Linked DNA regions of Homo sapiens: region 2 is linked to region 1. A link means that fine-mapping ties the variant in region 1 to the expression of a gene that starts in the linked region. Tissue or cell type: nasal epithelium. Region 1 holds a variant in brackets; the other region holds the start of a gene. All regions are shown on one strand. Distances are between the middles of the regions.

What was found. PIP is the estimated chance that this variant, and not a neighbour inherited with it, causes the effect.
Region 2: it holds the start of PCMTD2, and the variant in region 1 is fine-mapped to the expression of PCMTD2 in nasal epithelium (TOPMed, PIP 0.96).

Annotation. Positions count from the first base shown.
Region 1 is chr20:64,225,297-64,230,665 of GRCh38, reverse strand. MYT1 (myelin transcription factor 1) reads right to left here. Exons shown (of 23, transcript NM_004535.3): 17 at 3,189-3,251; 18 at 2,695-2,778. Among named protein-coding and RNA genes, the nearest start is that of PCMTD2, 28 kb to the left of the region's middle. RefSeq lists an enhancer at 3,827-4,326. The variant T/C (reference allele first, on the strand shown) is at 2,290.
Region 2 is chr20:64,252,677-64,258,045 of GRCh38, reverse strand. It overlaps PCMTD2 (protein-L-isoaspartate (D-aspartate) O-methyltransferase domain containing 2), which reads right to left and starts at 2,298. Exons shown (of 6, transcript NM_018257.3): 1 at 2,176-2,298.

The DNA of each region.
Region 1 (5,369 bases):
GGGATGGCCCAGCCATGGGACCCTGGGGGACACCTGCACCAGGCACAGACTGGCTGGGAAGAGGCTCTGTGGCCAAATGGGGGGTGGCTGGCTCTTCAGCTACTCTACACAGTCGAATCTGAATTATTATTAGTAGTAGTAGTAGTATTTTTGAGATGGAGTCTCGCTCTTGTTGCCCAGGCCGGAGTGCAGTGGCACAATCTTGGCTCACTGCAACCTCCGCCTCCCGGCTTCAAGCGATTCTCCTGCCTCAGCCTCCCGAGTAGCTGGGATTACAGGCGCCCGCCACCACGCCCGGCTGATTTTTGTATTTTTAGTAGAGATGAGGTTTCACCATGTTGGCCGGGCTGGTCTCGAACTCCTGACCTCAGGTGATCCACCCGCCTCAGCCTCCTAAAGTGCTGGGATTACAGGCATGAGCCACAGTGCCCGGCCCAAATCTGAGTTATTTTCACTCCCTTTCTTGCAAAACACTACTCCCCTTCATCAAGGGAAACTGTTTTTGTTCCCTTGAATCGCATACATGGAGAGGATTTCAGATTTCAGGTATGTTCTCTTTCTCACAAAACCTGGTGTGGAGACTTTCAAGCTGTCAGGGACATCATGTTGAGAGGTGCTGGGGCGGTGGGGGCAGGCACTGAGCTGGTGAGGCCTCTGTGCTTCTTGGGTGAGCTAGTGTTTCCTATCACGTGTTGGGGGGCAGAAGCCGTGTGTGCCAGTGACATGAGAAACATGGCCAGGACCAGAAGTCCCCTCCAGGGACAGTGGGCAGGGCAAGGGGAGCATTCACCTCTTGACTCCCATGCTGGAACCTCCGCAAGACTTTTATGACCAGTTATAAAGCTGTGGCAAAGGGATTTACCACCAAGCGCCTGATGTGACTTAATTTTAAATAGCGCAGGCAGGAGATATCATAAAAAGGACTCCTGTTCCACCAGGCTCCCCAAATCACAGCTCATGCATGCTGACGAAATCCCATCCCTCAGCATGACCTGACACATCCATTCCAGTTTCTGCTTTGATATGCATCTGTTTAAATATGCTAGGCAATTACAAGTGCAGTTAAAGTTTATGGCTGGGAAGGAACCCTGTAAAACGGAGGGTTCAGTAGTCAGGTTCCCTCTGCCATGGAGCCTCTAGGACCTTCCTCTATCCTGCAAATGCTGAAGTGTTTCTGAAAGTCACAGTCTCCACTCGGCTGCAGAACTCTTGTTTTTTTTTAAAGCTCAGTTGACAGCACATTAGAAAGGAAAACCATTTTTCCTGGTTAATTTGAAAAATGCTGATCTTGATTTTAATCATTTGCAAATGCAGCACGATTCACTTATAATATCCCTGCCAGCAGGATCCTTGCCAAATCCATAAAGGTGTTGCACTTATATGATCATAGGCAAATTCCTGGATTCTCAGGGGCAAAATGCTTTTTATCCACCTCAGCATTTAGTGTGCGACCTTCATAGTACTAACAACCAAAATTTTGCATTGTTAATTTAGCATTCATTACAGTTTTATTGTAAAAATTAAATAAATAAACAAGCCACAGCCTATTACACCAAACAGCTGGTGGGCCCATCCCCGTCTGAAGGATGTGATGTTGGTCAATTAGGCTCCTCCAGTGTGGCCGGGTGTTTGGGCACAGCTGGAGCAAACTACCAGGAGGAGCAACCCAATCTCAGGCCAAGTTGCCCCTCCCCGGGCGTGAGGTCTGGCTGCTCTTGGCCCAGCAGGTAACACAACGAGGGCAACCTGCTTCCTGCGGGCATAGTAGGGCCCCGTCCCGACCGAGCCGGCCCCTAACCCTGGGCAACAAGGTGTCCAGAGCCATCATTTCCACTCTGCTCACCTGCTGGGGAACCCACTGCCCATTTTGCCAGATGTCAGCTCTGAAAGTACCTCGGTCCTGGGCAAAATGGCCAGTGGGTCACCTGGTCTGAGTCTGTAGCAAAGCATTCCCCCCACCTAAAAGTGGGCAGTGCAGGGGACCCGTTCCCTATTGGGAGAATAAGCTTGTAAGGACACAAACCCCCACCAAGTAGGATAACACACAGAGTCAGGGTTCACCTATAAGCCCCACAAAGACACACGAGCCCCCACCCTGCCCCAGTGAGAAGAGCAATAGAGGAGAATCTTTTCTCCTCAAGGACTTGGGTCACTTAAGGCCCAAGATGTCCTCTTTCCTTCACCCAACAGTGTCTGGCTCCCAGTTTAGATCCTCCTGGCTCTCTCAATCTACCAGCTCTCTGCACAGGTGTGTGGGTGGATGGACACATGGGATTTGGAGCTTCAACA[T/C]TGTTCTAACCACCTTCTCCTCCTTGACTCCTGCATCTCACCTTTCCTGCCAGACAAATTCTGCAGGTTGCAAGGCCCTGGGGCCCACTCCCAGGTGGCCCTAAGACATAGGTAGAAGGGTGCTCTGCCTCTCCCAGCCCCGTCAAATACTCCAGACCTGAAAAGCCCAGAAAATCTGGCACCCATGCCCTCCACGCGACATCCAGGGCTCCTATCTTCACAGGTATCAACGTGTAGCGTATGAGAGCTTCCATAAAAATGAAAGAAACGAAAGTTGGCGTTGGTCAGTTAGGTGACCCGTTGTATTAATGAAAAGGGAATCTAGTAGGAGTTTTTTTACATTATAAAACACACGAAAATCTCAATTCCGCAATGCAATGAAAGAGCCAGCATGGCCCAACGTACTTCATCAGCTCGGGGTCCTCCTTGTCGTCCTTGGTGGGTGCCACCTTGACTCCACTTTTCTTTGCACGAGGGCAGCCGGACAAGCTGATTTCGAAAGAGGAAAAAAGGCCACCTTAGTGCTGGAACCGCAGCTTCTCACACCCGTTCATCTCACCCTCTCCCCTCAAGCTCTGTGACCCCAGGGTGGGGTGGGAGGGAGTGAGGGCAACCGATGGGTCAGTTGTAAGAAGCAGAATCCACAGACACAGCCTTCACACGAGGCAGCAGGGTCGGGAAGGAGAAGCATTACCACGAGCCCCTAGCCCTGACCCCTTGTCTTTTTATCTTACTGCAGAGGACAACTTAATCAGGTTCTGGAAATGGCAACAATTCAGATTAAAGAGATGGGAATGGACTCTAGCTGTCAGCAACATTAGTGTCTTCTAATCTTCATATAAGGAAGAGACTCCCTGCCCACCCCTGGGGCCCAGGACCTGAGGGTGTGGCAGGCTCACCTCCGGTGTGAAGCGTAGTTCCCTGTGATGTGGCCAGAGCCGTCACAGCCGGGCGTGGGGCACCTGCAGAGGGAAGCAGAACTGGAACGGGAGCCCGTGAAGGCGTTTAGCCCCGGCCCAGAGCCCTGGGACCCCCAGAGGAAAGCCTTCTGGGCTCAGCCCTTGAGTGCGCCCACCCACATTCCCTTGTCCGCAGAGGAGCATCGCCGATGTTCACCCCGGCTGCCGACTGCCAGCAACAGGGGTCTGATGCGATCATCTCAGGGGTTCAGTGCTTTGCTCCCCCGTCTCCCCGAGGGAGACCAGGAAGTCTGAGAGGAGAGCAGCCAACTGCTGCTCCAGCATCGGTTTACACCCAGACACCAAACCTGGGCACTGGGACAGGCCTACAGGGTCCACTGCAGCCAAGGACACGAAGGGCTCCCAGCTTGGACTTCTGTAGGGTCCGGTCTGGACTAAAGGCATTCAGAGCATATCTGAGCCATAACTTGAAGCACAGCCTAAGACCAGTTCATCTTCTTGGATGGGCTGGGAGCTTGCCCTCACAAAGCGTGGCCACCATGGGCTGGTAAATGAACAGAGGCCTTTTTGCACACCTGCTGCAGAGCAGATGGCGCTGGCCATGCCAGGCCTGGCTGTTGTATAGCATGACTGCAGAGTTCACACAGCCAGTGGCTTACAGCAGAGAGTAAGGAGGAGAAACACAAAAGTCCAACTTTACACACCCAAAACTATTTGACGAATGTATCACATAAGGTGGTACAAAATTCCACTTTAATATTACAAGCACGGATGTTATTTTCTTCCGAATGTCCACTGAGGAAAAAATATGTGAGTTCCTGCTGATGTTAGAGAGTGGGAGGAGGTGACCTGATTCTGCGGGTAGATCCATCCCCCGTCAGGCCTGCTCTCTGTGCCTCACCCCTCCTGACCCCTGACCCTGCAGGAGCCAGGCAAGAGTTCAGTGCTTGTGTCCAGATCACCTGCTGCTCAAAGGCACTTTGCAGTGGTGCTCAGACCCCAGGGAGGACGTCTCACTTTCCATGCTGCTGGCCCTTCCTCACCGGAGTCTTCCACCAGCACATGTGACATCCGGCCACTGGGACAGGACATCTCCTCGCTTGGAGGAAGATGAAGCCGGGCACAGCCTGGCACCCAAAGGGCTGTGGCGGCACAGCAGGGCTGGCCCCACCTCTTGCAACCTTCTCTTCGGCCCCTAGGAGTTTTTTTGGGGTGCCCTCCTGGGGAGCCTCACATTCCTTCATCCTTGCCCTGTGGGCCACACATTGGATACCTTGCTGGCCAGCCAAGAGAACTGAAGATGGCCTGCCTCTCCTTCCTGGGTTGGCAGCTGTTCAAGTGGCCACTTGGGGCTCCAGCTCCTTGTCTCAGTGGCAGCAAAGCATCAGGTAGAGCTCAGGTTCAGTGCGGTGGGCAAGTGGCCACTCAGGTGGCCAGAGTGACAGACCCACAGCAGCTCTAGGCCTCAACGGGGATAAGCACAGCATTGGACTGTGAGTGGCATCAACAGCAGAGGAGATACTTCCCGATGGCATCTGTGAGTGAGTCTCAGGTGGGGGTATAACTCCCAAGGGGCCGGCAGTACCTAACACACAGGGGGGGCCATCCTGCAGTCCTCACTAAGGCCCGATTCAATGGCTTTTCTCAAGAGTTGTGTCCCAGAGAGGAAAGTACTCACATAGTCAGAGGAGCAGGTGTCCCCTCTGCATGCCCCTCATGGCTCTGTGGACCCCCAGGGTCAGCTGCAGGAATCTGGAGCCACATCCACCCCTCCCACCACCTGCTTCTGAGTGCCCCATCTGGGCAGAAGGGAACACCGTGTCTGAGGGGCACCCTCTACCTTGGCAATACACACCAGGTCTCACCTCTCTAAGCCCCATCCCCGTGCTGTGGACAGGCATTCTTCACCCTGCACAAAGCCTGTCATGCCCTGGCAGGTGTGTGTGGTTGCAGCTCAACTCCCAACACAAGATGAGCTGAGTGGCCCGAGGCGGCCATGTCCTCACAGCCCTTGACCACATCAGACACATGGGAGGGAAGAGTGAACGCCCTTGGGATTCACTTAAAACACAGAACACACATCATCTGACTGTCGCTGCAGCCAGGTGCGGACAGGGAAGTCATGAAAGGAACCTCGTTTGTCCCAAGGCCACCGTCACC
Region 2 (5,369 bases), 27 kb before region 1:
GATAGGTTTCATTTTCCACTAAGTAACTATCACTTATTTTGAACTCTGCCTTAATTTGAAAGTTCAGACAGCTTTTTAGTAAAAACAAGCACCTTTTTCCAGGTACCACCTGCCAGTCATGGCCTCATTTACACTTCACAACATTAAGAAGCAAATTGGAGCTGGCCGGTTAATTTGTTCATGATCACATAGCCAGTTTGTGAGGAGGGGGCTGCATTCAAACCCAGGACTGTATGGCAAAAGGCCTGTGTTTTTAATACCACACCAGTGCAGCTTTTAAAAATACTCAAGACAGCAACGTTCTTTACCACACAACACACCGGTAACCTTTTGACGATGGGGTAACCCTATCTATACCTATTGCCACTGGTAGGATCCATGTGAATAGCTGTGGGGTCTGATATTTATTACCATCTTTGTCTGGTAATCTAACACTCCCTCGCACTGAAAACCATCGATATGATCAGTCATGATGTCACCAAAAACACCGACAACAAAGCTCTTCGCCAAACCAAATCCTATCATTTTCACCCAGATTCTACAATCTGGTCAAATCCAATTTTTCAAAGTAAAAGTGTAGAATCATTTTTAGAACGCTGCACTCGATGATACTGTGCACATTGTCTGCTGTAATTAATCCTTAATATAATTCACTACTCTGTGGTAACTAGCAACAGTCCATAACAACCTGGCTGCTCCTTACAATGCGAACTGCCAGGGCACATGAAGAACACTTGCTGAGTGGCGACAGGCATGGGAAGGTCTCAGAACTGACACCTGAGTTGTGATTGTGGCTGTGTCAACACAAGCATGAAGCTATGGTAGTGGGGTTTTGGGAGGCGACATACGGAAGATCACATTCCAACTTGGATGTCACTTCTTTAGGGTAATATGGACAAAGTAATTCATTGTGGAAGATGAGTGGGGAAAAGGACCCAAAGCCACATCTCCTTTGGGCAGAATGATCAAACAAACACACAAACAGATTTCTCACCTTGAAAACCAGAACTCTTACAAGCAATGCAAAGGGACTTTTTTCAAATACAGATGGTCTCCGACTTCGGATGGTTCGACTTCAGGTTTAACGATGTGTTTACTGGGATGCGACCCCACCGTAAGCCGGGGAGCACCTATACTTGAAAGGCTGTCACATGTACACTATTAATGGGCCTAACAAAAGCCAGACCAGTGGTACATGTTGGAGACAATGCCTACTAAATACACAGAGAAGCTTTCTAACAAATGAAGTTGCAATGAATGAAAGGAGCTCTTGATAAGCCCAGCCAAGTTCCACTGGAGGTACGAGCTGGGGTGGCGCAGGGAGCAAGGCCCTGGATCGGTCACCTCTGAGGTCTCCTCTCATCACCTGAGTGTAGGGCTCTATTTCCCCCAAGCGTGGCCACAACAATTTCTGAGTTGCTTATAGGCACCTCAACTTCACTCATTCTTGAATGACAGTCTATCAAACGCCCAGATAGGAGCTGTTTAGCCATTCCCTTGAGAAGAAAAATGAAAACTATTCTAGTCACACGAGTAAAGAGGGGGTGGATAAAGAGGGCGTGGATATTTAGGTGACTTATTTGAGGTGCAACGCTGGAGCAAACATTCATTTAGGAGACACGTCCCTCTCACAAAAACAAAACAAAGGCCCGAAGCTCAGGCAAGTTCTCCTTCCTCCAACTAACAAAGATCTCTTTCCATGCGTGAATTGAAGTCCCAGTGCTCTGCTCCAATTCTTACTATCTCCAAGGCACGGGGCGGGGGGGCGCAATTATTTTTTTAAAAAATCCTGTCATCTTCTGAAAGGGTCCAAGGCAGACTTTGTTCTAAACCTTAGCTCTTGGCTTGCCTTGGAACTGCAAACGTTTCCCACTTGGGAAGTCAAAGACAAGCTGCAGGTCTGGACTAACCAGACCCAAGAGTGTGAGTGAGCAACGGGCACCGGGAGAGACCGACGGGAAACCGCGAGCGCTCGGAGAGAGAAACGCGGGACGCCCTGGAGGCCGCTGGGGGGAGGTGAGGGTGCCCGAGGTGGGGAGGAGCGACGCCCCCAGAGGAGAGCTCCGGGCGCAGGGGTGCCGGGGGTGGGGAAGGAGGAGGGAAGGGGCCGAGGGGACACACCACCCGCTCGCCGCAGGCCGGACCGAGGGGCGGCGGCGGCGGCGGCGGCTCTACCTCCAGGCTCGGCCGGCCGACGGGTTCGGACCGCCTGGGCTGCCACCTGCAGCTCCTCGGGCGCGTCCCTCGTGTGTCCGCGGCCGAGCAGCGCCGCTCCAACCTCGGCCGCCGTAAACATCCGCCGCCGCCGCCGCCGCCGCCGCCTCTGCGCCTGCGCACAACGGCCTGACTGCGCATGCGCCGCGGGCCTGGCACTTAAAGGGGTGATGGCGGCGCAGGGCGGGCCCCACTCCCCTGGGCTGCCTGCGTCCGCCCGCCCCGCTGAGAGCTCGCTGAGCCCTAGGCCGGGTCCGAGTCTCGCGGGCGCGCCGTCCGCGCAGTGCTCAGCCAGGACGGACCCCGCACGGGCTGCCTCAGAAGCCCTCCCTAAGGGTCACCTGAGACGCCTTTGCTGACCCACGGCTGGGGGCGTTCCGCATCTCCAGGGTGCCCTGCGGCTGCTGACTCGGGGCCGGCGCTGCCCTCGGGCGGCCTCCCAGCACCAAGCACAGCCGCCCTGGGACCCCCGCCCTGCCACGCGGACGGCCACCCGGCCCTGGGGCCCTCCTACCCAGCCGGCTTTGTGAAATCAGCTGTGAAAGGAAGATATCCTGGGCCCCCAAGATCACTAAGGAAAACTCCAGCAGGAAACTGCTTAGGGCAGGCCTGCTTCCCATTCCATTCAAAGTCACTCCTCTGCTCACTTAGATAGATACATATCTGATTTGCCTCCTTTGAAAAGGCAAATGAGAAACTCAAAAGAATTTAACCGTTGGTGTCTCACCTATCTGTGGCCTGGACGCTCCCTCCCCGCTTGGAGTCTTCCTGCCTTTGCTTCAAGTTGTCCCGTCTTTCCAGACCGAACCGATGTGCTTCTTACATGTATCGATGGATGTATCCTGTCTCCCTAAATGTATAAAACCAAGCTGTGCCCCGACCACCTTGGGCACATGTCAGGACTTCCTGAGGCTGTGTCACGGGCGCGTCCTCACCCTTGGCAAAATAAACTTTGTAAATTAACTGAGACCTGTCTCCCATTTTCTGGGTTCACACAGCCCATTGCCCAAACTTCGCGTGGGGCTTTGCAGATAGGCTGTAGCTGCAGAACCCTTTCTTCAAGCACAGCCATGCAAGCCGCCTCATATGTGCAAGTGCCAGCGTCGCTGGGGCGGACGAGTGGGCCTGGGTCTCCGGTTCCCGCCTCCCTCCTAACTCGGCATTCCTCCCCAGACCCTGGAGCTCCACTTAGGAGCAGAGTTTGAAAACCAAAGGCCGGTGCCTTCACCACGTTATGTGGTCCCAGGGAGACCTCACTTCTCTTGTTGATCCATGGTCCTGGATCCACGGACCTGAGGTGGCCCACCACCTCATGACCTTCATGGGGCTCTCAGTGTCCTTCCACCTGAGAGCTTGTGGTTATTTGTGACTGTTTCAAATTACAGAAGCCCTGGAGTCATCCTTGACTCTCTTCCTACTGCCAGGGGACACGTCCTCCATACATCCCTCCTTGCCCTGTCCCAGCTCCCCTCACCTCTCCCCACCCCTCCCACCATTCCCCTGGGCTCTGGCGAGTGGTCCTCCTAAAACAGGTGATCACATCACTGCTGTCTTCAGACACTCCCTTTGTTCCTGGACCCAACTGAGGGTCGGGCTACTACTTCTCCTGGCCCAATAACAAGATGCAAATGAGCTGGAGAGTAAGAGAGGTTTTATTTCTGTAACCGGTTACAAGGAGAAGGCCTGGAAATTATCACCATACCAACTCAAAATTACAAAGTTTTCCAAAGCTCGTATACCTTCTAAGCTGTATGTCTACATGTAAGTGTGCATTCATCTACAGACATAAGTGATTAACTTCTTTTAATCTATGACTAAGGTTGAGTCCTGAAGACCCTCTTCTGGAGCCTCAGTAAGTTTACTTAATCTAAATGGGTCTAGGTGCTGGGGTGATTACCCTTATCTTGTCTCCTGCTAAATCATAATGATATGGGGAATTCCTTTAGACCCCCATAAACTTGTTTGTGGAGGCCTGGGGAGTTTCTTCAGATCCCTAATACAACTTGTTTAATCCTAAAAAGGGTCCTGTTAAGAGTTCCTTCGTTATCTTGTCATGCTTCAAGGCCCAGGAAGAGCCTAGGCAAAACTCTTGGTGGGCTCTTTGTTACATTCCAACCTTTGTATAAGGGCATTGGCTCAATCAGCTTTTAATGTTTAACCTGGCTACTCAGTCCGTGCTGGGACAGCTGTAATGGAGGCCTGCGTTAGTGAGACCCGGCCTGCCACAACTTCAGACTCTTGCTTGGTTTTCCAAGGTGTCTCCACCATTCCCCTCCACATCAGCTTCCACTACCATCAGCATTCATAACCCTTCACAGGGTATATACTGAGCACTCTACATGGGTTATTTCCATGAAATAGGTACTAGTATGACCTCCAAGAAGAAAAGTGGACCGTGACATCAGGAGCTGGCCTGGCACTCAGATCGAGGCCATGGGGTCTCCTGTTGGACATAAATAATTTTGTAGAGGAGCACCATCATGATCCAAGGCCACGTCATAATTTTGTCTAAGCACAAACAAAAACAGGGTAACTGTGCCACCCACAAAATCTAAGACATATCATCTCCAAGTTAGTAACAATGACCCCCGCTCCTCTACCAGCTACAGCTGAGCCTCCCTCTGCCCTGGCCTCCTCACAGATAACATCTACTGAGATGCCCAGAGAACCACCCTTTCCCCCCATCCACTCCCCCAATTCCTGACAGCATCTAATCCATGAAAAAAATCACCCAACTCAAGCCCATAACCTTTAGTAACTTTTCCCGACACCTCTTACTGAGATGCCTTGCAGTTCTCCATGATCTGCATCCCTCTCGCTGCAATGAGTGATAATCCCAACTCATTCAATTACAGGCAGGTTCCTGGCAGCCTTTGGCTTGACGACACTGATACCTCCATTTTACAGATGAGGGAACTGAAACTGCAAGAGGTTCGCTGGCTTCTTGTACTTACCAGCTAGTAGTAAGCACAGGAAGGTGGATGGGAATCCAACTGCTGCTGTCACCCTCCTCCAGGCTTCTCCCACACCCAGCCACGGGGAGCTTTCTGAGTATGTCTTCAGTGTCCCCTCGCCTATCCCCTTGCATCTCTCCACTCATCTGTGTTGTATCTGCAGGAGGAGCCTCGGACGGAGGGAAGGTCATGCAAGGGCCT